4 linked regions of the Homo sapiens genome follow. The protein of the gene in region 1 purifies or fractionates together with the protein of each later gene. This does not show direct contact. Each region holds a gene or a part of one and is shown in the gene's direction. Other genes may lie near its edges.

Region 1 (2,888 bases):
TCGGCTAATTTTGTGTTTTTAGTAGAGACAAAGTTTCACCATGTTGGCCAGGCTGGTCTTGAACTTCCTGACCTCAGGTTATCCACCCACCTCAGCCTCCCAAAGTGCTGGGATTACAGGTGTGAGCCACCGCAGCCGGACCATTTTTAGTATATTTTCAGTAAATACATTTAAACAATGTTAAGGCCACAGCACACATATCTCAGCCATTCATTGTTCTGTGCATTGATGTTTATCTCATAGATGCATTGAGTAGTGCCTTTTTAGCTTTTTCACATTACTTTGTCACCATATCCTTTGTGTTCTCTAAATACATTGCCCACTTCCAAAAATGTTCAGCATGAAAAAAAGGGCTTCAGTGTCGATTGAGATTGCTTTTGTTCATCTCAGGGATTTCAATAGTCAAGAATGAATTCAGTTAAAGGTATTTAGGGTTCAAAGAAGACAAACTGTACAAGCCCATTTCATTCCTTGTTGTATACCTTTCCATCTGCCCTCCCATTTTAACTATCTACTGTGGCCTTTTTATGGAAACAGAGCAAGATCAATGAAGGCTAATGGCAAGAATAAGAAAAAGAGTTGAGATTTAACCAATAGCGGAGCATAAAGGATCATGACAAAATCAAATTATAAAAGCATACTTGAAATAGGTGGAGCTTTTTCTTTTGAAAATATATATTCACAATTTTAATATTTTAATTTATTTTTTACTATTTAACCCTGTACTTGGCAATGCTCAGGCAGCTGATTGTGAAATATTCTTGTCCTTTACAGAACATGGTTGTTATTGTGCTGTTGACATGAATAGACCATGGAAACATTTTCATCATTATTATTCAGCCTGTGCTGTAGTTAATGTTAAGTTGCTGAAATAAAAAGTGAGCAAGTAATAGATTTTCTTGGCAAATCTAATGATTCAGCCCACAGGACTGTTGAAACTACTGCGGAAGTTTTTCTATCTGAAAGAAGGTGCTGGGCATTCAAATGTGTTCATGTATTGTATATCATATGAATTGTATATCAATTACTAATGGGAATTTCTACATATATGCTTACAAAAGCAATTTATTTAAGTAATGCTAGGGGTAGTGTACATACCAATTAGTTATTCAGCTACTATACAGAAAAAGGATGAACAAATTAATTTATTTCTAATTGAGCCAGTTAGACATAATGCATATAACGTGATATTTGGTTCATGAAAGAGTTGTTTTCATGTGGTTATTGTAGGGAGTATATATAATTGTGGAAGGGGTATGGGAAGAGTTGTGTATAGTTAGTTGTTATCTCTACAAGTTTGAAAGTTTTCCCATCAAACATTATCAATATACCAATGTTTTAAAAATTGAGTGAGGGTTATTATTTGTATTTGATGAAAGAAAATCCAAATAAAGCCCACCTAGAAATAGATATTTTATTATATATGTGCTATAGATATACCTATATAGTACAAATAGACATGTGTGATGCATATATACAATGTTATATATGTGTATATGTCTGTATACACACTGAGTCTGTAATATGTATACACTAAATTTGTGTTATGCTAACATCTTCAGGGTCTGCACTGTGAACTCCCCTGGAGATAAGTAAGTCCACTTTAGAATAAAGAAGTTCTTTTGAGACTTCAGTTACTAACGTGCTTTAAGAGGTATCTACTTTATAACTGAATTCTATGTCGTTCATACGTAGAGTTACAGTAAGGGTCTAGTATGTCCAAATCTTAATAATAAAGAAGAAAAGTAAAGGCTTCAAGCTAGCAATGTATTCGAATTACAGTTTTCAGATTGTGGCTCCAGGCCTTGTGTTTCTCATTTAAGTAGCACCTTTTAATAAAAACCGTTTCTTTGTGTAGGCAAAAGCACAAGTGTTTCAAATGTAAATAGCAGGAAAAAAAAAGAGTTTACAGAGATAGCATTGCTGCACAGAATAATTGCTACTGAGTATTTCTTATAGAATTTGTGGAACTGAAAGATGAGGTTTATTCTGTCAAGTTCAAGTTCATTCTGTTCAACACTGTTTTCTTATTGTTTGTGTATAGCAACCGGGTATTATTGTTTTATCATTTGTAAAATTGTAAAATAAATTAATCCCTTTTTTTCACTGTTTCTCTTATCTCATATATCCAAGCCCTTGGTTATACTTTGTATGTCAATGTTAGGTGATCATTTTTAACAAGCTTTGGCTTGTGCTTTGCTTTTCCACTCCCCTTAGCCCTAGTGGTTGGCAATTAGGCAAACCATTTATTTTTAAGTGTATACATGGGAATATGAACAATGTCAAAAACCCCATGAATATTAGGAAATCCTTAACGATATTTTGTGTAGCACATTCTGTTTGCGGTTGAGGGAATAAAGTATTTCACAAGTGACAGTCATTTATATCCATTTTATACTCCCACTGACTAATGTTAGTGGGTTGTTTTAGCTACAATGACTTCATACACACTGCACATTCTATGGCAGATTTTTGATTTAGTATTTTGACTGCTATTTGATCCACTTAATACTGTTTGTGATTTGCCTTCCAGAGATGATTCTGAAAAACTACACGCTTAAATCTTCTTCCATGGCTTTCTATAACTTGCAAGTCTGTTTTCAGACTCTGTATTGATTTCTGCAGAAATGTTTAACTGTAGCATTCTGCAATTTTGAAACATTTACTGGAGACCACCAATGAAGCACTGACAATAACTAATACATATAGATGTTATTTATATTTGCATAATTACCTTTTTTTCAAAGATTCATATACAACAGGTTATTCTTAGCTACTTTGGGGGGTATAATCAGATCTCATCATGTGGAACTCCATTTTTGATGTTATGGAAGAGCTTTCAGGATTGTAATACGAGTTTTGATGCCTGAAGCAATTTTTTAAAAGGC
Region 2 (7,407 bases), on another chromosome or scaffold:
TCCCACCACACCCTTGATGGATGGAACTGCATAATTGTGTGATGGCGGAAAGCTAATTTGTACTTCTGTGCTGGCAATGAAGTGTCTGGAGCTTTGCAATTGACATTGAGAAGCAGAGGGGATCCCTCACTCCATCCCTGGTTCTCCCTCAAACTCAAATCGCAAATCCTCCACTCTATCTGCAAAGGCCCAGAGACAAAGGGGCTGTAACCTAACCCAAACCAAACAGCCACTCACAGAAAGTCATGGGAAGAAAAAAATCTTTCCAGTCTTGCAAAGACAAGCACCTGGTGGTTCTCTCCCTGTCTCTCGGTAAAGGTCATTGGTTCAGTTTCCCTTTCCACCTCCTGCAGGGTCTTGTCAGCACCTGTTTTCTTGGGCACAGATTGGGAGATGGTTTGGTGTTTCTCTTCCTCCCAAATTAAGGCACACTCAGACCAAAAAGCAAAGGGAAAGTGCCTCCCGAGGTTTTGCTGCTATCCATTTCTCAGTTTCGGAGGTCTCAAGACACAGAAAACTTAGACACCTAAAGAGGATAGAGAGGAAGAAATATTTCTTTTTTATGTATTTATTTTTTTCTTTGAGACCAACTCGCTCTGTTACCCAGGCTGGAATGCAGTGGCACGATCTCAGCTCACTGCAGCCTCTGCCTCCTGGGTTCAAGCGATTCTCGTGCCTCAGTCGCCGGAGTAGCTGGGATTACAGGCGCCCACCACCACACCCGGCTAATTTTTGTATTTTAGTAGAGACGGGTTTTGCCATGTTGGCCAGGCTGGTCTCGAACTACTGACCTCAGGTGATCCACCCGCCTCGGCATCCCAAAGTGTTGGGATTACAGGTGTGAGCCACCGCGCCCAGCCAAAAAAATGTTTCTGAAAGAATATGTGTACATGCACGCGTATACATGTGGCAGGGGGTGAGAGGGAGAGACTTGTATAATCAGAGATTTAGTATGTGATACAATGGGAAAGAATAAACAGAATTAAAGGATAACAGCCACCATTTATTGGATCTGTACTATATGCCAAACATGTTGCGAAATATTTTATGCACAATGTTTCATTTAATTTTCAAAGCAACCCAGTGAGGGAGAAACGTATGCGCCCATTTTACAGTTGAAGAAACAGGCTCACTGACGCACAGCTCATGACTGGGGCCGAGCTCCAGGACTGAGATCCTGATGCCCATTTTCTGAACCACTACTGGCTACTGCTTTCCAAGGGCTAGAGATGAGAAAAAAAAGGAAATTGGTTTATGGTGTGGCAGAGGTCTTGCGATGAGACATGAAGAACTCTCTGACAATGAGGGCTGTTTGGTTGTAGTCGGAGTAATTAGGCTTGTTAGAGCTCTTCCTCTGACGGCCTTTACATTTAAGATGAATGGATGCTTCTATGCCCGGATGGTTTGAGGGAAACGCTGTCTGTTCCCAGCACGGGGCTGGCCTGTTTGAACTAGCTGACGGCTTCACTGGGGATACAGGATTGCCACACGCGAAACCGTTAGATAACAGGAGAAGATAGCGCAGGATGTGAGCCCCGAGTGGGACTGGCAGAAAGTGAGGGCTACCGACAGGCAGAGGCTACTGTGGTTCAAAGCAAGGGCTTTGTGGTCAGGCGGGCAGACTTGTGTTTGAGTCCCGGCTGGCTCTACTGCTTTTGTGACCTTGGGTATGTTGCCTAACCTCTCTAAGCTTTGGTTTCCTAGTCAGTAAAAAGAGCCTAAGAATAGAACCTACTTTGGAGGGATGCCATGAAAATTAAATAAGATGATCCATGTAAAATGCTTGGCACAGAACCTGGACATAATCAAAATACAATGGGGGAGGAGCTGCTATAATAATGACTATTGTTGGAGTCCAGAGGCCGGAGACAGTGGCACAGAACAGAGGGCTAGGTCGGTGGGGAGTCGAGAAAGTCTTCCTGGGAAACCTGAGTTTTGTCCTGGAGCTTGAAGAGGTGGTCAGGTGAAATCAATAGCAAGGCATAGAGATGTAGGTAGGCAGGGCTTATGTAATGGAGTGAGATTTCAAATGCCCTATCACTTTCAAAGAAAAATCTGGTTTGATCTGTGGTTGAAGTAGAGAAGGAAGTTGACTATGGGGAAGAGGTGGGAAAGAGATGAGGTCTTCCATCCTTGTTTCCAAACCCAAAATGTGAACAGAGACAAACCTCAGGGACCTAAACAAGAAATCTGACATCCAGGGCTTCTTTGCCCACTTCTGGGCTGTTGTGGGAGGAGAAGGGGTAAGAGCCTGGGAAATGGCTGAGGGCAGAGCTGGTGGCGGATGGGGACAGGACCTGAAACAAGGGAAGTTAGGAAATGTGGGCGAGGCCCTTAATGACTGTGTGGGCTGACTCATGTGGGAGACCTAGCTTCAAGGCCGCATGGAGATCCAGCATCCTGTCAGGCGGGAGGCCAATTTCAAGACCCTGGGCATCTCTAGTCTAAACGGTTGCCAGCTAAGAGTGGGAGTCCTTAGGGGAGCAATCCTTGTGCTAATCCAATTATTCCCTAACAGCCTGCCTTATCTCCCGGATGTGAAGATGAACTCCTTAGGAGCCAGGTTCTCCAGGAAGGATGCTGCTTGTTTCAGATGCTCTATGTTTTTGTTTTGTTTTGTTTTGTTTTGTTTTGTAGAGACGGAGTCTTCCTCTGTCACCCAGGCTGGAGTGCAGTGGCGCAATTTTGGCTCGCTGCAACTTCTGCCTCCTGGGTTCAAGCAATTCTCCTACCCCAGCCTCCCGAGTAGCTGGGATTACAGGCGCACGCCGCCACACCCAGCTAATTTCTTTTGTATTTTAGTAGAGACGGGATTTCACCTTGTTGCCCAGGTTGGTCTCGAACTCCTGAGCTCAGGCAATCCGCCCGCCTCGGCCTCCCAAAGTGCTAGGATTACAGGCATGAGCCACCGCGTCTGGCCCAGACGCTCTATGCTTAAACATCTGCCAAATACCTGCTGTCAACCACTTATGTCGAGCATCATGTGGGCCTTGTCAAAAATGCTAATCCTCAGTTCTTTTCCCTAGAATCTGATTCCATGGGTTTAGGGATTCGGGAATCTATTTTCTAACAAGCATCCAGGTGATTCTTCAGGAAAGGCAAATTTGGAAAAGGCTGACTTGGTAGTCTCTTAAATTCCCTTCAGTCCTAAATCTAGGCAGCAGAGAGCGGGTAGCGGGAAGGGCCCCTGGATGATAGCAAGAGGCCGATTCTAGCCGGACCCTGCAGTTCACATGGCCCTGTGCTGGGGAAGCCCTAGAAGGGAAGGAGGCTGCAGAGAAGGGAGTTTTCACCCATCAGTAATCAAGGTCCCAACAGAAGTGAAAATGGAAGTCAGGGAACAATTGGTTTTGAGCATCTTCGTGGGGCTTTTTCCCTTGCCTGGGACTGGCAGGACAGTGTAGGTCTGAGCAGCTTCCACGATACACACGGGGACACTTAAGCCCAAAGAATTTTTAAAACGTGCCTAAATTCCACAACTAATCAGAGGAGGCAGCAATCCAGATCTCCTGGTCTTCACCCTTCTTATTGTTGGGGTGCACCGCAGGGCACGCATGTTTCCTTGTGGCTTGTGGGAAAGCCACTGTCGTGGAGCGCCAGCGTCCCGAGTCCCTGGAAATTCTCCCAAGTGACCTGGAATCCAACATTTCCCTGGATTTTCATAGTCTATAATAGAGAGAAAGAACCGGGTCTGCGGTGGTGGGCAGGACTGAGGAAAGGCCGTGAATGCGGGAAGCACGGGAGGCAGGACTGAAAAGGAAAGAGGCACAGGGGCTCACAAAACCTGAGGGCCGCGTCCCAGTGGGTGACCTGACCCATCAAGGTCTAACACCTGGCCGTGGCAAAGCTGGGCGAGAACCCCCGATCCACCCTCCCAGTGTGGGGCAGGGAAAAGGCAGAGTGCAAAGCGAGGTCTGATTTTGCAGAAGCTTTTTAGAAATTCGCTGTCAGAGAAACTGAAAGACCAAACAAAACCCCTAAAAATCCAAGCCCGATTATTTCATCCACGTGGCACAAAAGCAAGCCAAAAAAAAAAAAGCGGGGGGGGGGGGTGGCGGTGCAGGGCGGGGGAAGAGTCACCCGTCCTGCCCCTGCTGGAAGGAAGGGATTTGCCCCGGGAGAGCAAACTTCTGACTCCGCCTGGGTCGCTGACTCCGCGCGGCCGGGCGGGAGGGAGGTCGAGGAGGCCGCTCGCACAAAGCCGCGGAGCCGCTGCCCCCTCTCCCCGCCCCCTGCCCGGCCAACGCCGAAGTGCGGAGAGCAGCCGCGGGCCCTTTAAGGGCCGCGAGGTGCGCGGTCTCTTTAAGGCGGGTCCTGGTGGTTTCTGTTTTCTGAAGGAAGTGACGGGGGGTGGGATTGAATGAAAAGTGCAAAACACAGGCTCGCAGCGCTGGAGCCCGGGGCCGCGGAGCCGGGCCGGGGCAGCGCCGTCTCCGCCTCGGGGCCGCCGGGGGCGCCCTGCTGAGCGCTACCCACGTGCGTCCGCGCCACCTCGCGGGCGACCCCGCGGCCAAGGCCCCCGGCGGAGCGGCTCCCGGGCGCCCCGAACTAGCCCCCAACTTTGGGCGAAGTTTGCCTGCGCCTCTCCCCGCCCCCACGCGGCGCGCCGGGGCCGCGGACGGCAGCGGCCCCCGGGGATGCGCCTTCCCGGGGTACCCCTGGCGCGCCCTGCGCTGCTGCTGCTGCTGCCGCTGCTCGCGCCGCTGCTGGGAACGGGTGCGCCGGCCGAGCTGCGGGTCCGCGTGCGGCTGCCGGACGGCCAGGTGACCGAGGAGAGCCTGCAGGCGGACAGCGACGCGGACAGCATCAGCCTCGAGCTGCGCAAGCCCGACGGCACCCTCGTCTCCTTCACCGCCGACTTCAAGAAGGTGAGGCGCCCTCACTCGCCGGGGTGGCACCTTCAAGCCTGAGCCCCCCGGGATCCCAGGCGCTCTCTTGCCTGCAGACGGAAAGACGGGCCCAGGAGGGAGACGCAGCTGGCCCAAGGTCACGCCGGGCTCTTCTCTACACCTCTTTGCCCACTCCCCAGGGCCCACCCCTTCATTCTCTCCAAAGAACCCCTCTGCTTCCCTTTCTCACTCCCTCCTCCAGCGCTCCCAGAGCCCCCCAGGTGCTAACCCTCCTCCAGAACTCCTACTAACGACTGGACTCCCTTCTTGGAGTCATTCCCCTGTGCTCTAGTGGGAAAGTCCTAGGCGAAGTGTTCTCGCTGTGGGCTCTCACTGTGGGTTCTCCCTGTGTGATCTAGAGCAAGCAAGCCTCTTTCCTCCTATGGGCCTGGCTTCTCACCCCTGTACAGGGCACTGAGGGGTCTGCGAGGCCTCCCAGCCCTGACATTTTGGAGTCCCTCTGTCACCTCTCCCTCTGTTTCACTTTTCTGGGGAGAGCTGGTTGCCCCTGGTCCCTCTCAAGCCGGGAGAAGCCCTGTCTCCTCTTTGGTCTGGAAGGCTGGGGCGCTTGCAGCAGGAGGATCCTGGAGAGAGACCCCAGCTGAGGCCCCCTCCCTCTGGGAGAAGTGCTGCCCTTCACTCTGCCTGGCAGAGAAGCGAGCCAACCCCCCTATTTTGGCCCAGATTAGGGTTAGGGAGTTAGAGACCAGCCCGGTGGGTGGGTGGGTGGGTGGGTGTGGGTGTGTGGGTGTGTGTCCCAGATTACGGTTTGGGAGTTAGAGACCAGCCCGCTCTTGGTGTGTGTGTGTCTGTGTTGGAGGGAATAAGAAGGGCCTTGCACCCAGGGGGCTGGGGGATTATCAGGAAATGGGCCTGGATGGTGAGTGACTAACAGTGACCCAGCAGCAGGAAAGCTGGAGGAAAAGAGGGTGGGTAAGTCTTAGGTATTCAAAAGGAGCGTTCTGTCTCCTTCCCCCAGCTAAAGAGAGGCCCTGTGAGGCTCTGTCCCTGGGGGAGTGCAGGGGTGAAGCCGATTAGATAGCTGGGGGAGCCCGGGGCCCCGGGGACCCTTGCTGAAGCTGCCTGTCTTTCCTCCCTCGTAGAGACAGGGCGCTTTAGAGGAGAGGTGGCGGAGTTTGGGAAGTCAGTTAGGGACCCAGCCAGATTGCCATAGTTAGCAGGGGTGAGGGGTTAGGCTTGACCGCTAGAGGTGGGTGGGGTTGGGGGGTGAGGCTTGACCGCTGATTGCCCCAGGGCCACGGAGTTGGCACTGACATTGGACATAAGCAGGCAGATGGGGGGTGGGGTAGTGAGCGTTCACAAATGGGAAGACTTTGTAGCCCATCCTTACTCCGCAGGCCTAAGCTAGGCACCCTGCCTCCCCACCTAAACCCTAGGAGAATTTTATCAAGTGTGTTCTGTTCCTGAAAAATCTATGTTAGTGGCTGGATCCATCAGGAATCGGGGATCTAATCTTCTGTCCAAGCCCTTTGTCCTTGAAAGTTAGCCTTAGGCCAGGCTGTGAGGCTCCCAACCCCCTGCCCACTGGATGTCATCTTGTGGCTGCACTAGAATCCTGCAGAGAGACTTCCCTGGCTGTGGCCAGGACAGTGAAAGGCAATGGGTAGGGCTGAGCTTTTATAGCCTTTAGCTACATCTGGAAGGTTTTTATTGCTGTGATCTGAAGGGAGAGGCTAAGAAGTACCCAGGTAGCTGTGATGTGCTGGCAGTAGTGGCTGATGGCGGGGGTGGGGTGCTGGGGATTGGAGTGAGGGTATGCTGGTCATCTGACTGCCCAGTTAGAAAATGCATCTGGAGATTGTGAGCACCTCATTTGAATCTCTACAGTGGTTCAGACCTCCACCCAGGTTTCTAAAGTCTGATTTTCAGGTTAGCCTCTGACCCAGAAGCTACCATTTCATACCCACCTCTGGCATCTCCAATTTCATCAGCAAGGGAGGGAATTGGGAGTGGAAGACACCGAAAGGAAACCAGCTTTCCCAAGTCCCTTTAACTCCAGGTTTCTCCATTGGCCTAGGACGGGGTGGAGTTGGAGAGTGCAGTGTGGGGGAGAATAGCCTTACCCTCACCCAGGCCACTCACTCACTGCCTGCACTGGCCACAGCAGCTTCTATGTCCAGATCCTTCTAGGGTGGGTCACCTCTCAGTTCTCAAGGCCCCATGCCTCATAGTGTTTGTCAGATTTCCATAAGAAAGTTTGGTCTAGAAGGAATGATTTTTCCTATAAGAAAAAGACTTCGGCTCGGTGTGGTGGCTCACATCTGTAATCCCAGGATTTGGGGAGGCTGAGGCAGGCTTATCGCTTGAAACCAGGAATATGAAATCTTCAGGCCAAACGAGACCCCTGTCTCTACAAAAAATTTAAAAATTAGCGGAGCACGCTGGTGTGTGCCTTGTAGTCCCAGCTATTCAAGGAGGCTGAGGCAGGAAAACCACTTGAGCCCAGGAGCTGAGGCTGCACTGAGCTGCAATTGTACTACTGCACTCCAGCCTGGGA
Region 3 (7,038 bases), on another chromosome or scaffold:
CCAGAAGTCAGTCGAGTTTTCTCCAGGCTGGAATGAGGACACTGACAGCCCCCACCAGCCCTAGCTTAGGACAGGGGTCACACTGTTTAAAAGGATCACTTGAATGACAAGAAAGGCCATATGCTCATCACTTTTGCAGAAGCTGGAAACCTAGAAGGGCTGGATAAGAAAGACATTGGGTAATGAAATCAGGGGACAAAAACACTTTGACCTCCAAAGAAATAGTGGAAATCTTTAGAAAGGCTGATTAAATAAAAGTAAACATAAGATTCTTTGTTTTGACTCAGAGCAGGCACCCATGTGTGCACACACACACAAGCACCTGCACATGCACCCGCATCCACAGAGATGGGATGGAGGAGGCCTGACTTAGTAGCACCATGTAAAAATAATTTGTAAGTATATGTTAGCAGTAAGCTTAATTTGAGACAAAAGCAATCAAAGTTGTTGTGACTTTAGATTATATTAATAGGAGCATAGATTCTAGATTAAGGGAGGTGATTTATTTCTTCTATTCTGTATAGCCCAGTTTACTTTAGAAGTATTAGGTCAACTTCTGCATAATATGAAAGGGTTCAAGAAAAACTAACTTAATTAGAGGGAAGTTCAACATGATTAGAGAATTTGAAATCATGAAATATGCGGAAACACAAGGAAGAACTGAAGATATTTGACCTAGAGAAGTCCTTAGCAAGGACTTAAGAATGGGCTTCAGTTGTTATGTGGAAAGTGGGACTTGATCTGTCTTCTATGGCTCCAAAATAGGTCCCATTGGACTCATGAATGTAAGATTGAGGGACCCTGGCATTTGGAGGTCAGAAGAAGGAAGAACATCTAATAGTTGAAGAGGCCCTCTAAGGAATGGATTGCATGGATTTCCCTTTTACTGCAGGGGCTGCATGATCACTCATCAGGGCAGACAGAGGGAATTCACACCTTGGGATGGATGCTTGGTTCAAAAGGAACTTTAGAATCCTGTCCAACCAACTGTGAGGGCTGTCATGGGCTCTTGCCTTAGCTGCTATGAAAAAGGTAATGAATGCAGTGGCTGTGCCCTCTCTTGCTGAGGGTTCAGGGGGCTGCTGCTGAGGCCTGTTTCTGTTGCTGCAGGCCCCATTTACAGTTATGAAGAAGCAGAGGCATCAAATGCTTAGCCAGGTCCAGGACCACAGGCAGCAAACCAACACCAGCTACTCACATGGGCACAGCTCCTGGCCATCCACTTCCTGGAAAGATGGAGATCCAGGCAGAGAGCGGATCCTGGGCTGGGGTCTTGGCAGAGGGATCTTCCCCTGGGGGTTATAGGAGCACCGATGGAGATGGAGACCAATAGGAAGGAGGTAGCCGTGCTGATGATGGCTTTTCAGGTCACTAGGCCTGGTTTGAAAGTGGACTGTGCCACTCACAAGCTGCATGATGCTGGAGAACTTGATAAAATCTTTTGAGCTACCATTTTCCTATTGGCTTGTTGTGAAGATTAAATAGACCTTGTTTGTGGTGTATATGACCCTGTGCATTGCTGGACCTCAGAAAATACTGAAAATACAGGAAATATTCCCCTCTATTTTTCCCTTCAAAACTGACCTGTGCTGGCCACTGTGGGGACCACTGAAGAAGACCCAGGGAGGGGAATGGGTCCCCCAGCCTTTCTCTGGGGGTCATCACTAAAAGAGTGACTGTTGTGATTGCCCCCTCTGCCTCCTGACCTCCCTCCCATGCTAAGGCTGCATTTTCTCCCTGACAGAGGAACTGAAGGAGAAGCTGACCGAATATGTGGACAAGGTGAACAGCCAGAAGCCAGGCTTCATCAAAGTCGTGCGTCACAGCAAGCAGGAAGGCCTCATCCGCTCCAGGGTCAGTGGCTGGAGGGCGGCCACTGCCCCTGTGGTGGCACTCTTTGATGCCCACGTGGAGTTCAATGTGGGCTGGTAAGTGCCCCTTGGGAGAGGAGGAGGAGTCCCAGTGGGATCTGGGGCTTCAGCTCCAATAGTGCAAAGCATGCTAGGATCTTGGTCATAGCCTAAGGGAAAAGAGGTAATTCTGGGAATAGGTGAGATGTAGGTGTGTGAGTGAGCCAGGCAACAAGGCTGGACCTTTAGGGTTCGAGGTGTGGTAGAGGGGAGGGGGTAGCCAGGGGTCAACAGGTCAGCACACGGTGCCTAATATGCATGGTGACATCACATGTGACTCTGGCTGGCAGGGTCATCAGGGAGAAGGGTACATGCCAAGGGCAAAGCAGAGAGTGTCCCGCTAAGGACAGGGTTCCCACACCTAGGAAAGGAGAGCTGGGCCAGACGTGAGGCAGAAGCCCAGCCTCACAGCCAGGGCCAACAGCAAGTGGGCAAAGGTGGGGGAAGCTTGCCCCATGTTGTCACAGGTGCCCTGGGCTTTCCCACTGCCAGATTGGAGGTAGCACGTAATCTCAGATTCTCCCTATGGTGAAACTGTCTAAGAACATCTTTCTTTCTCTGGTCAGAGCTGCTCAGATGCTGGGGGGAAAGGGACCAGACAGAAGGCCCAAGTGGCTGCAGCCAGCCAGGAATAGAGTGGCGGATGCAGACCTCCCTGCAGGGCTGGAGGGCACAGGGCCACCTGCTGTGTGTAACTTTGCCTGGGCCTGGGAGACACAGGCTCTGGCAATGACCATAAGTAGCTGGGGCAAGTAGGTGGCCACCCTTTTATCAATATGCCTGTTGTCACTGGGGTCTGCTCTCCTCCCCAGACTCCACAGTGCCAACCTGTGCCCCCGGGGAGTGGGAGACAAGGGCACTTCAGCAGGAAGGAGCAGCAGGGCGTGCACACAGCCTGGCCTGGATGCTGCCATAACAGGCCCAAATGAAGGCTGCAACACAGCCATTTTTTATAGTTGAAGTCCCTGCTTGCCACTTGTGACTATTTAAACAGCATTTTCTTTGGATTTATGGCCAGGATAGGAGAGGGACACTTACTATTTCAAGCTGATTTGAATAAACAATTATGCACCAAATGTATTATTAATGAGAAGCTTATTCCTGCCTGCAAACACTTTACTCGCCTGGTGCCTTCAAGGGTCTCCCAGCTCCCTGGGAAAGCCCAAATGCCCCACCCCTCCTTGGGTGGTTGGGAAACGCTTTGGGGGGTGGATGTGGCACAGCTGGCATTCCAGGGCAACATCGCATGGCTGGTGGATGTAGGTTTGTTCTCAGCTCCTAGTCTCTGCCATCCTCATCTGTCTTTTCCTCCAGGTTGACACATAGAATTTTAGCAAAATCAAAGCCCAAGGTGAAAGCTTTTTCTGGAGCCTCAGATCTGTTTCTTTCTTCTTTTTCTTCTTTTTTGAGTCTTGATTTTTTTTTTTTCTAATGGAGAAAGGGAAAGCGAGCAGGCACAAGGTTGGCTGGAATAAGAATCTCTCAGCTCAGCTCTGGATATGCCAATGGAGTGGTGCAGCCTCTTGCCATTCCGGCAATCCTCAGGGAGCGGGAAGTTGAATAGGAGCTCCTTCCCAGAAGGCAGTGCACCTCTCCATCAGAGGAGATGGGCAGGCCTTCCTTCCTCTTTCTGCTGGGGAAGGACCTTCAGGAGATGCTACTCTGGATTTTTCCACCTTGGAAATGGTTACCCTCTCTGGCTGTCTCCTCTCTGCCCAGGGCTGAACCTGTACTCACCCGCATCAAGGAGAACCGGAAGCGGATCATCTCGCCATCCTTTGATAACATCAAATATGACAACTTTGAGATAGAAGAGTACCCGCTGGCTGCCCAGGGCTTTGACTGGGAGCTGTGGTGCCGCTACCTAAATCCCCCCAAGGCCTGGTGGAAGCTGGAGAACTCCACAGCGCCAATCAGGTAAAGCAAACCTTTACCTGTGGGTCTCTCCGCTTTGACCTCCAGGCTAGGGACCGCCTACTGGTCCAATGCTTATTCTCCAACTTGAGCCCCATCGTGGGGATGACAGGGGTGGGCAGGGTCGAAAGGAACTGCAGTCTGATCTTCAGTCACTGCCACAGGCTCTGAAGATCTCAGAATCCATTCACAGCCTCAAAGTGACCCATTTTCACACATCACTGTGAGACGTCTGCTGGGCGCCAACCACTGTGCTCCAGGTTGGGGATCCGGAGTGATGAAGATTTGGTTCCCACTGCCAAAAGCCTGGAGTCTAGTGAAGACAGACAAAATCATTGGAATAGGAACATTATTCTACCATGCAGGCAGAAACTGCATTGAAAGCGGGGAAATGCTTTTCAGAGGGCAGCATTTTCACTTGTTTTTGAAGGCGAGTAGAAGATGGCTAGGTTGGGGAATGGACACCCATATGCAAAGTTCATGAACACAGAGAAGGTTCAAAGTCACTAGAAGTGGGAAGTGAGCCAGCAGCCCCCGGCAGTAGGGGTGGAGGGGCTGAGAGGCAAGATCGGACCCCACAGGACAGTGTATACCTTGATGATATTTGAGTGTTATTCTGTAAGACTCAGACAAAAGTGACTTCATACTGCATTTCAAAGGTCCCAAGTTCTTTCCTGCCTTTGCTGCCATCTTCCTAGACTCATGAATGACTCCCTTGTGTGGTCTCGGCTTTTAAGGTTCAGGACTCCTCCAAAAGCTGTCCCCACTAGTTTTTATTTCTGTCTGTGTTTGTTTTTGTTTTTGAGACGGAGTCTCACTCTGTCACCCAGGCTGGAGGGCAATGGCGTGATCTCGGCTCAATGAAACCTCTGGCCCCTGGGTTCAAGTGATTCTCCTGCCTCAGCCTCCCAAGTAGGTGGGATAACAGGCACCTGCCACTGCACCTGGCTGATTTTTGTATTTTTTACTAGGGACAGGGTTTCATCATGTTGGCCAGGCTGGTCTTGAACTCCTGACCTCGTGATCTACCCGCCTCGGCCTCCCAAAGTGCTGGGATTACAGGCATGAGCCACTGCGCCTGGCCTATTTCTGTCTATATTGATGATACGGTGGGTGTCTTTATGTTCCCTGCGAAGTCCTGCCCGTTATAAAACAGAAGGCACCAGAAGGTGGCCTAGGGTACAGTTTTTGGAGTGCAAGAGATTAGAAGCTCATGTTGTTTTATATTATATTAGGGAGAAAGGGTATGAAAAATTTAATTGAAAGTCAGGGATTATTACTTAAGATCACATTTTTCCTTGCCAGAAGAAAAAATGTATACTCATACTTAAAACGGGATAAAACCACCTAACTTTCCTGAAGTTACCTGATACCTACTCTGCTCGGCCCCTGCCACAATTTTGTGTTGTTAAACATTTGCTGACAGTCTGCTATGTACAAGGGTCTTTTACACGCATTGGCTCATTTGATCATCATCGCAACCTGTTGACCGCTCATGTCTCATCCCTGTTTTACAAGAGGAGGAGAGCAAGACTGAGAGAGGTGAATGGCCCTGCCAAAGGCTCTGGGCGGTAGAGCCAGGATCCACCCAGAGAAGCTAGACTCAGTGGCTAGTTTTCACCCCTCTTATTGTCCACTGTTGAGCTCAGAACTGGTGTAGCTGTTTTCTGCTCCCAGGCCTGATGAATGCTGTTGGAAGGAAATATGCCCCCATGCAATGAGCATTCCTGCAGAAGACTGCATTGACAGTAACTGTTTCTGTTCTGCTCATCTCTAACTGTACTGGTCCAGTCTCAATCAGCAAGCCTGCATTCCAGGTCCTTGCCAGACAATGTCATCTCAACCTCAAATTTTCTATCACCCAATTTTTATCAAAAACTTGGTTGAGGGAAATAACTTCTATGGAAGATTTTTGGAAGAACATTCCTGGTTTTATTCCCAGATGAAGACAGCTCCACAGAAAGCTGTGATTTATACAAATGTATCTTGCCCATCCGAGCTCCCTTTTCTTTCAAGCTATACTTGAGTGCTTTGCCCACACATGGTGTAAGTCATAAAAAGAGCCCAGCAATATCTTCTGGTGTATTCTAAAGGGATGTCTTTGTGATCGCTGTTCCCTAAGTCGCCAGGTGACCCCATTAAGAAAATCCACGTGAGAAATTTCTTTCAAACTGACTGCCAGTCAAAGAAAGACTTGCTATCCCCAGGGAATCAATTAATATGACATTTTCACATGAGAACTGTACATTTTGTTTCTAAGACCATGTGTGTTCATTTCCACTTTGACCAACAGGAAACTCAAAGGCAAGCTTTCATGTCTGCTTTAAGAACAATTGAGAGAGGACCTTGGTTCTGCACATGCATTCCAATTTGTTGCAATCTTTAGGTCTGTCCAGACATTTATCTATTTATGGTTCTCTATGTATTTTAAATTTTCTCATAAGCTATTTCTAATCCTTTCAGGAATGAGGCAAGGTGTAAATCGATAACTCTTTCATGCTGATAGAATCCACTTAATACCCTAGCCGGTTAATAATAAACCACTGAGGTGGCCTGTGCTCATCTCAGAGTAACTGTTTCAGATTCTGTTCATTACCTGGCTTGAACTGTCAGTTTGAGGAAGGTCCCTTCCTGTGTGTCCTGAAAGCATTTTTCCAGCGTGCCCTGCCCTGTCCAACACTAGGAATGCAGAGGCAAATGCCAAGGCCCCACTCTGCCAGCCTGATGTTTCTGAATCATCACGTATTTAAAGAGAGGATCTTCTAGACTTAGTGCACAATTGCATCTTTTTACCTTTTTAAATGGCCTTTTGAGTGCCAGTTATGTCCCAGAGGCTCTCAAGTGCTTTAATTTAGTCCGTGTGAGGTTAGAATAGATCCTATGTTACAGATATGGAATCGGAGGCTCAGAGAGGCTAGGGAACTTCTCTTAGAGACATGCATCCGGAAGGGGGATTTTTCCCAGAGAGACTACCTCGAAGGCCTGGGTTCAGTTACCTCCACCACAGCAGGGTCTCAGTCTGCTTTAGGAGTGGTGGATTAGCTTCCCAGGATGCCTGCAGGTCTGTGAGGGTGAAGCCATTTAGAATAAAATGCAGTGATTTGAAAGGAAGAGAAACAGTGGCTCCAGGGTGTCAGTCTCTGCCCCAGAAGTCTCCTGTATCTGCATTCCCCAGGGAAATGACCTGCAAAATCGCCTTTCTCCACCTTGATAA
Region 4 (7,038 bases), on another chromosome or scaffold:
AATTATTTCAAATAATTATAATCAATATAGCATTGGCTTTGTTATGAAGAAATGAAAGTAGAAAAATACTACATGGTTTAAGCCTTGAGCTTTGCATATATAACACTAATCAAATAAAGCTCCCATTTTTCTTTCTTCACCGAACAAAGGTTCATTAACTGATGTGTACATAGTGTGTTATCTCAGTCTGTCACCAATAGAAAAATAAATAAGATATGAAGTCTGCATTCAAGATATTTAGAGATGAAGAAAAGAATATAGGAATTGGTAACTCTAATATAAGGCAAGATATAACCACTATCATGAAAATGATACAAATTAGAAGTCAGAGCTGCAGCTCCATATATGAGGGGAGGTTTGGGATGGTCAGGTGGAATTTTGACTCTTTAGGATGCAAGTCTGATAAGGGAAGGTCATTCTAGGAAGAAGGGACTGCAACGTGAGCTACAGCTAGAAAAAAATAGCATAAGAAATAGCAAATTATCACTACTTTCAAAATTTGCCTTTTCTTGACTCTAAGTTTAAGCTCCTTGTGAGCTAAAATTATGACTTACTTATGTTTATATTACAACAGCACTTCTAAAATCACTTATACAATACATGTTTATTGAGTCAACAAGGCAGAGATAATTTGGCGTCAAAGTATAGGGAGTTTTAAATGTCATATTAAGAAATTTGGACTTCATTTGTTGGGTAGCGAAGAGTTCTCACATGGAAGAATGATCAGAGGGGTTAAACTGGCAGGTTAACAGGGCAGTCGTGTGTCAGTGGACTGGAAGAAAAGATGCTGAATTAGACAGAGAAGTGCTGCTGGAAATGGAAAGGAAGGCATCAACTTAAGCAATACTGTTAAAGAAGAATCAGCCGAGTTCATGACTTACTGGATAAGGGGGGTAAGATGAGCGACAGGAAGCGGGGGAGGAAAAAAGAGAGAATAAGGATAACTGGCAAATCTGATGATTCAAGAGATTATGGTATAAATAACAATTTTACACATATTAAGTTAGAAATAGAAACATCCAATAAGCTGTTTGAAATGCAAGATTATGTTTATAAATGTTATCATGCCTGGGGATCAAAATTCGGAAGCTGTATAAACAGCATGTGGAAATTGGGGAAAGCAGCAGTGAAAACTCGATGGCAGAGAACGGGAGAAGAATGCGTTCCACCTGTTCTACACTCTGTTCCTAACACAGTCATTTGTTTTCCGTAGGCTTGCAACCCCAAATATTCAGACTACGATAAAACAGGCTCTATCTGTGCAAGTGAGAACATCAATGACACTTTGACGCGGTACCGGTGGCTGATTAGTGCACCTGCGGGCCCTGACGGTGTGACCAGCCCTATGAGAGAAGTGGACTTCGACACCTTTTTTACGTCATCCAAGATGGTCACACTGGACTCCATATACTTTCAGCCTGGCTCCCGGGTACAGTGCGCAGCTCGTGCTGTGAACACCAATGGGGATGAAGGCCTGGAGCTCATGAGCCCTATTGTAACCATCAGCAGAGAAGAAGGTCAGTCATTGCCATTTTCCCCTGAAGATCACTGGAATACTGTGCAATATTACAAATGTCTACTTTCTGGTTATTAATACTTCCAATGTCCCACATATTCCATATATTTTGTAAGTAGTGAAAAATTAAAATCTATTTTTACAAAATTATGTATTAGAAAACAAAATATTTATTCATTCTACCTTTAAGTATCTATTATATGCCAGACACAATGCTTTGTGCTGGCAATAAAATAAAGAAGACAGGATCCCTGCTTTTGAGGAATTCTTGGTCCAGTTGAAGATGCAGACACATTTTAGTCTAGACAGGGCACAGGAATGCACAGGTAGAAGTGATTAGTTTTACCCTGAGTGGGTCAGGAAAGGCTTATCAAAGAGGGGAGGCTCAAGCTGAATCTGAAAAGAGTAGAGGAAAACAAGCATGAGCAACAACTCATAAAAGCAAGAAAGAATGCGGGATATTGTGGGAATGGCAAGCAGAGAAATGGGGAAGCTTCTGAGAGGGAGAGGAGGAAAAACCAGGAGACAAGGCAAAATGGTATGCAAGGCTCAGATCTGAACAGAGCTCATGCCATGCAAGGAAACCAGCTGGTTGTTGGGTGAGTAGGATTTTGCTGGGGACGGGAGGGGAAGGGCAGTCCAGATAGAGGGGTACGTGCAAATTAACACCTTGGTATTACAAGAGAGACTGTATTTAAGGCTGGAGCAAAGACACATTGGGGATGGAGAATAGGATGTGGCTGGGGACAACATTGGAAAGACAGGAAATCCACTGTATAAATAAATCCTTCACTCTGCAGAATAATTTTTAATGAGATTTTTCTTAAAAACGGTTGTATATATTTGATTCTATTTCTAAATCATCTATTTGCACACCGCATTCAAAAGTAAATTTACTGCATAGAGGTCATATGTCCCACCTGTGACTACTATATATTCAGGATCAAATATTTAAATAATGCCTTAAAATGATTCTCTCTTTTAATAAATCAGACAGCCTCTATGCTGGGGCCTGACTCTGATTTCCTTGCTATTCTAATACATATTTGTCTATTTTCTCTGTTTTATACAAATAGATAAGTAATTGTATCTTTCCAAGTTCTCCTGAAATTATAATTCAGCGTCTTGGTTCCTTTCATGATGTTCAAATAGAAACCCCACTATTTTCCTAAAGGAAATACTGGAGAAAGAGTTTCATGTCCAAATTCTTGAAGGTCACTGGGAGATATGAGACAGAAAGAGATGAATATAAAATGGATTATAATGTATAATACACATACTGTAAAAAATTACATCTATAGAGAAAACTCTACTGTACATATTTTGCTCTCTGATTTTTAAGGAGACTTTAGTTTTTGTTCCTAAAATGAGCACAGTTTTAGTTTTATTCACTTATAAGTAATGTAAACATAACTAATGATAAGTATATTATTCTAGAGTAAAAATAACATTTACTTGGTTTAACTACACTTACTTTTATCCTACTGACTTTCAGTCATTTTTACTGTATCTGTTCATACTTTATATTTAAATGATTTTGTGAATATGACCATGACCTAGAATAACCAGCACACATTAAGTTACATTGAATGGTAACAAATTTTTTCTCAAAGTTTGAACAATCCATAAATTGTCAAGTGGCCACTAACTGTCTGCTGTGATTACTTCTCACCCTGTGGACTTCTAATTCCTTATCACGTGATGTACACTCTTAGCCATGCCCTACTCCACAGAGAAGTTGAAAGTACACAGAAAAATAATAGCTCCTATTTTCTAAAACATTCTTTAGGTATTATTGATTACCTTCTTTTCGCATAAATATGGTCTTTTTTTTTTTCAAGGTCTTTGTCAGCCCCGTGTACCTGGGGTTGTTGGAGCAGAGCCGTTCTCAGCTAAATTGCGCTACACAGGCCCTGAGGATGCAGACTACACAAACCTTATCAAGCTCACTGTCACAATGCCACACATAGATGGTAGGTGACTTGGGTAAGCAAATCCATGGAATTGTTTTGGACTCCTCATTACCTGTTGTATTTTCCTTCATCTTCTAAATAACCAAGCTTAAATAAACGTTCAATTTGCAACTTGAGCTTCAAGTCCTTCCACTTCTTTCAACTGTTTTAGCTTTGTTCTACCCTGTTTTTATAACTATGGCAGTGTAAGCATTCGTTAAAATTAGGTAGATGTAATACATATCCAGACACGATAAAACAAAACTTTGGTACCTAGTCTAGCTTTTATGAAAGAGTACAAATGCATCTTCAATCGTAAACTTGAAGTTACAGTAAAGTATTTGATATCTTAGTACCTACCTTCAACATGTGTTGCAGTTTTATAGCTGGAGTTTTATGTCTCTCTCAATATTTATCATGTAACTGTAAGACATTTCCAAGATATTTAAATAAAATAAAAAATGAAACTAACAGGTATTAAATATTGTGTCTATTTTCTCTGGCTAGGTAGCCATGACCAGAATGTGTGCATCAATAACTTTATCATACTTTATGAATATTTTACCATGTGCGGAAGGCATTTTCAAGTTATTTTCCACTCAAATCACTTTATACTTATAGCAAATTGTTAATAAAATTACTTGATATGTTAGTTATATTTTATGTAGCTAAGGGAGAGGAAATACGATTAGGAGCTGCAACGTAGAATCTACCTCCCCCAGAACAAGAACATCTGCTATGTCTTCCTATTACAACCTGAGATTTTTCTGGGGATTGGAAGGGCAGGTGGTCAGGAATCTGCATTCCTTCCTTTATAGCATAATGTTGGTCCCTGAACCACCCAGTCTGTAGGTCCATGTGGAGGTGTGACTTGAGCTGCAAAGGGCTGAGAAGGGACCCATCAGGGAAACACAGACCTATAAGAGTTATTTCCTAAAAGAAAGAGTGGTCTCTTCTGCCACTCCTAGGGCTTGGCTTTGCGTTTTCTGAATGCACTGTTCAATGTTCAATAGCCACAGTTCTGCCAGAAGTGTAGTTGAGGCTGACCACTTCTTCTGTGGGGCCGGAGTTTTGCTCTGAGTGAATCTGAGAGGAAGAGGTGTGAAAGGCTCAAAGAGAAGAACTGGTTCATAGTCTTTTGCTGTATTGCTTATGCCAGGGCTCAACACACTATGTCCTGTGGCCAAATACAGTCTGCTGCCTGTTTTCATATGGTCTGCAAGCTAGGAATAGGTTTTATATTTTTAAATGTTTGGGGAAAAAAAAAGAAGTCTACTTTTGAGACATAAAGATGGTATGGAATTCAAATCCATTGCCCATGATAAAGTTTTGTTGCACACAGTTCTGTTTCTTCTTTCACATAGTAGTGGCTTTCACTCTGATGGCAGCATTGAACAGTCAACAGAGACCTCAGGGACCACAATGCTAAAATATTTACTATTTGACCCTTTATGGAACAAATTTTCAGTCCTTAGCCTGTACTTTTTAATGGTGGTAGTTTTCAACTTTATAAAAATTTTTTTTTTGAGGCAGAGTCTCACTCTGTTACCCAGGCTGGAGTGCAGTAGCGCGATCTCAGCTCACTGCAACCTCCACCTCCCGGGTTCAAGCGATTCTCATGCCTCAGCCTCCTAAGTAGCTGGAATTACAGGCGTGCATCACCATGCCTGGCTAATTTTTGCATTTTTAGTAGAGACGGGGTTTCGCCATGTTGGTCAGGCTGGTCTCAAACTCCTGACCTCAAGTGATCCACCTGCCTTGGCCTCCCAAAGTGCTGGGATTACAGATGTGAGCCACCACGCATGGCCAGTTTTCAACATTTATGATCCAGGACATCTTAGAAATTATTGAAGATCTCAAAGAGATTTTGTTTATGTGGGTGATATCTATAAATATTTATTGGATTTTAAATTAAAACTGAGGAATTGTTATTTATTCACTTATTTAAAAATTACAAAAAGAAATACATTACATATTAACATGAAATACATCCTTTAAAAAACTATGTTATAAAACAAAAAAATGATGAGTGGCACTTTTATATTCTTGAAGATATCATTAATGTCTGACTTAATAGAAGATAACTGGATTCTCTGCTTCTGCATTCAATCTGTTGCAATTTATCATATCTTGTAGTCTCTGAAAAACTGCATTTGTGAGAGAATATGGGTGGCAAAGTCAAATAATAACTTACTATCATTGTGAAAATAGCGATTAAGTCATGGATCTCTTGAAATTTTCCTGGGGAACCCCAGGGTTCTTAGTATACCACTTTTTTATTTTTTTGTTTTTTGTAGGGGTTTTTTTTGAGGTGGAGTTTCACCTTTGATGTCCAGGCTGGAGTGCAGTGGTGCGATCTCAGCTCACTGCAACCTCTGCCTTCCGGGTTCAAGCAATTCTCCTGCCTCAGCCTCCCAAGTAGCTGGGATTACAGGCACCCGCCACCATGCCCAGCTATTGTAATTTTGGTAGAGACAGGGTTTCATCATGTTGGCCAGGCTGGTCTTGAACTCCTGACCTCAGATGATCCACCCACCTAGACCTCCCAAAGTGCCGGGATTACAGGCATGAGCCACGTCACCGGGCCTGGACACCACTTTGATCTGTATGCCATACACCACTGCTGTATGGCATTTTATGACACTTGTTTTCTTAAGAGATAAAGAAGTTTTAAAGTGTTCAAAATTCTTGGCTACTTGAAAGACTGTTAACAATGATTTCGATTTATCATAGGCATGCTCCCCGTGATCTCCACTAGAGAGCTTTCCAACTTTGAGCTCACCCTCAGCCCTGATGGCACAAGAGTTGGAAACCACAAGTGCTCCAACCTCCTGGATTATACTGAAGTGAAGACTCATTATGGTTTCTTGACTGATGCTACCAAAAATCCAGAAATAATTGGAGAGACATATCCTTACCAGTACAGCTTGTCCATCAGAGGTTCCACTACCTTGCGCTTCTACCGGAACCTGAACCTAGAGGCCTGTTTATGGGAGTTCGTTAGCTACTATGACATGTCAGAACTCCTTGCTGACTGTGGTGGCACCATTGGAACAGATGGACAGGTACAGATTTATAACATCTGAGTTTGGTCACTGGATAAACCAATTGGTTTGTTTTGTCACATAGATTTGTACTAAGTCCCAACTCCAGTTTTCCATCTTGGTGTTGTAGGTAATTATTGACAGCAAGGGACCAGACAACTGGCATGGATGGTGTGAAAATCCGTGTCTATTTCTTAACAATGGGCCAGAATATACGTAGTTTTTGACAATGGGCTAGAAACATTATATCTATGTGAAAAGGATGCTGTATAATTATTGCCTTAAGCTCAAAATCTACTCTGATATTATAAAAATCCAAATACTGACTTCTCTTCAAAGTATACACTATGTTGTTTTTGTGTTTATGTGTAGATGCCTGTGATGTTGTATCATGAGCCACCTAAAGTGAGGTTTTACAATCCTGGGAGTCAGCCTAATTTTTCTCCCTCTTTTCTGACTTTCTTCTTCCCCTACATTTTACAAAACTTTCTCTGCTTTTAGCCTCCTGTTTTACTCTCCTTCTTTT

Evidence for each region.
Region 2: the proteins of ST8SIA4 (region 1) and OAF purify together in Homo sapiens (affinity purification with mass spectrometry; 2 studies listed by BioGRID and IntAct, with this or other methods). This does not show direct contact.
Region 3: the proteins of ST8SIA4 (region 1) and GALNT18 purify together in Homo sapiens (affinity purification with mass spectrometry; 2 studies listed by BioGRID and IntAct, with this or other methods). This does not show direct contact.
Region 4: the proteins of ST8SIA4 (region 1) and FREM2 purify together in Homo sapiens (affinity purification with mass spectrometry; 2 studies listed by BioGRID and IntAct, with this or other methods). This does not show direct contact.

The regions. Positions count from the first base shown.
Region 1 is NC_000005.10:100,806,421-100,809,308, reverse strand, and holds the end of ST8SIA4 (CMP-N-acetylneuraminate-poly-alpha-2,8-sialyltransferase isoform a precursor), read left to right. Parts: 3' UTR 1-2,376; downstream 2,377-2,888. UniProt on the Homo sapiens protein: Catalyzes the transfer of a sialic acid from a CMP-linked sialic acid donor onto a terminal alpha-2,3-, alpha-2,6-, or alpha-2,8-linked sialic acid of an N-linked glycan protein acceptor through alpha-2,8-linkages.
Region 2 is NC_000011.10:120,206,643-120,214,049, forward strand, and holds the start of OAF (out at first protein homolog precursor), read left to right. Parts: upstream 1-4,389; 5' UTR 4,390-4,637; coding exon 4,638-4,868; intron 4,869-7,407.
Region 3 is NC_000011.10:11,373,971-11,381,008, reverse strand, and holds part of GALNT18 (polypeptide N-acetylgalactosaminyltransferase 18), read left to right. Parts: intron 1-1,744; coding exon 1,745-1,928; intron 1,929-3,629; coding exon 3,630-3,827; intron 3,828-7,038. UniProt on the Homo sapiens protein: Catalyzes the initial reaction in O-linked oligosaccharide biosynthesis, the transfer of an N-acetyl-D-galactosamine (GalNAc) residue from UDP-GalNAc to a serine or threonine residue on the protein receptor.
Region 4 is NC_000013.11:38,858,074-38,865,111, forward strand, and holds part of FREM2 (FRAS1-related extracellular matrix protein 2 precursor), read left to right. Parts: intron 1-1,213; coding exon 1,214-1,517; intron 1,518-3,357; coding exon 3,358-3,489; intron 3,490-6,201; coding exon 6,202-6,533; intron 6,534-7,038. UniProt on the Homo sapiens protein: Extracellular matrix protein required for maintenance of the integrity of the skin epithelium and for maintenance of renal epithelia. Required for epidermal adhesion. Involved in the development of eyelids and the anterior segment of the eyeballs.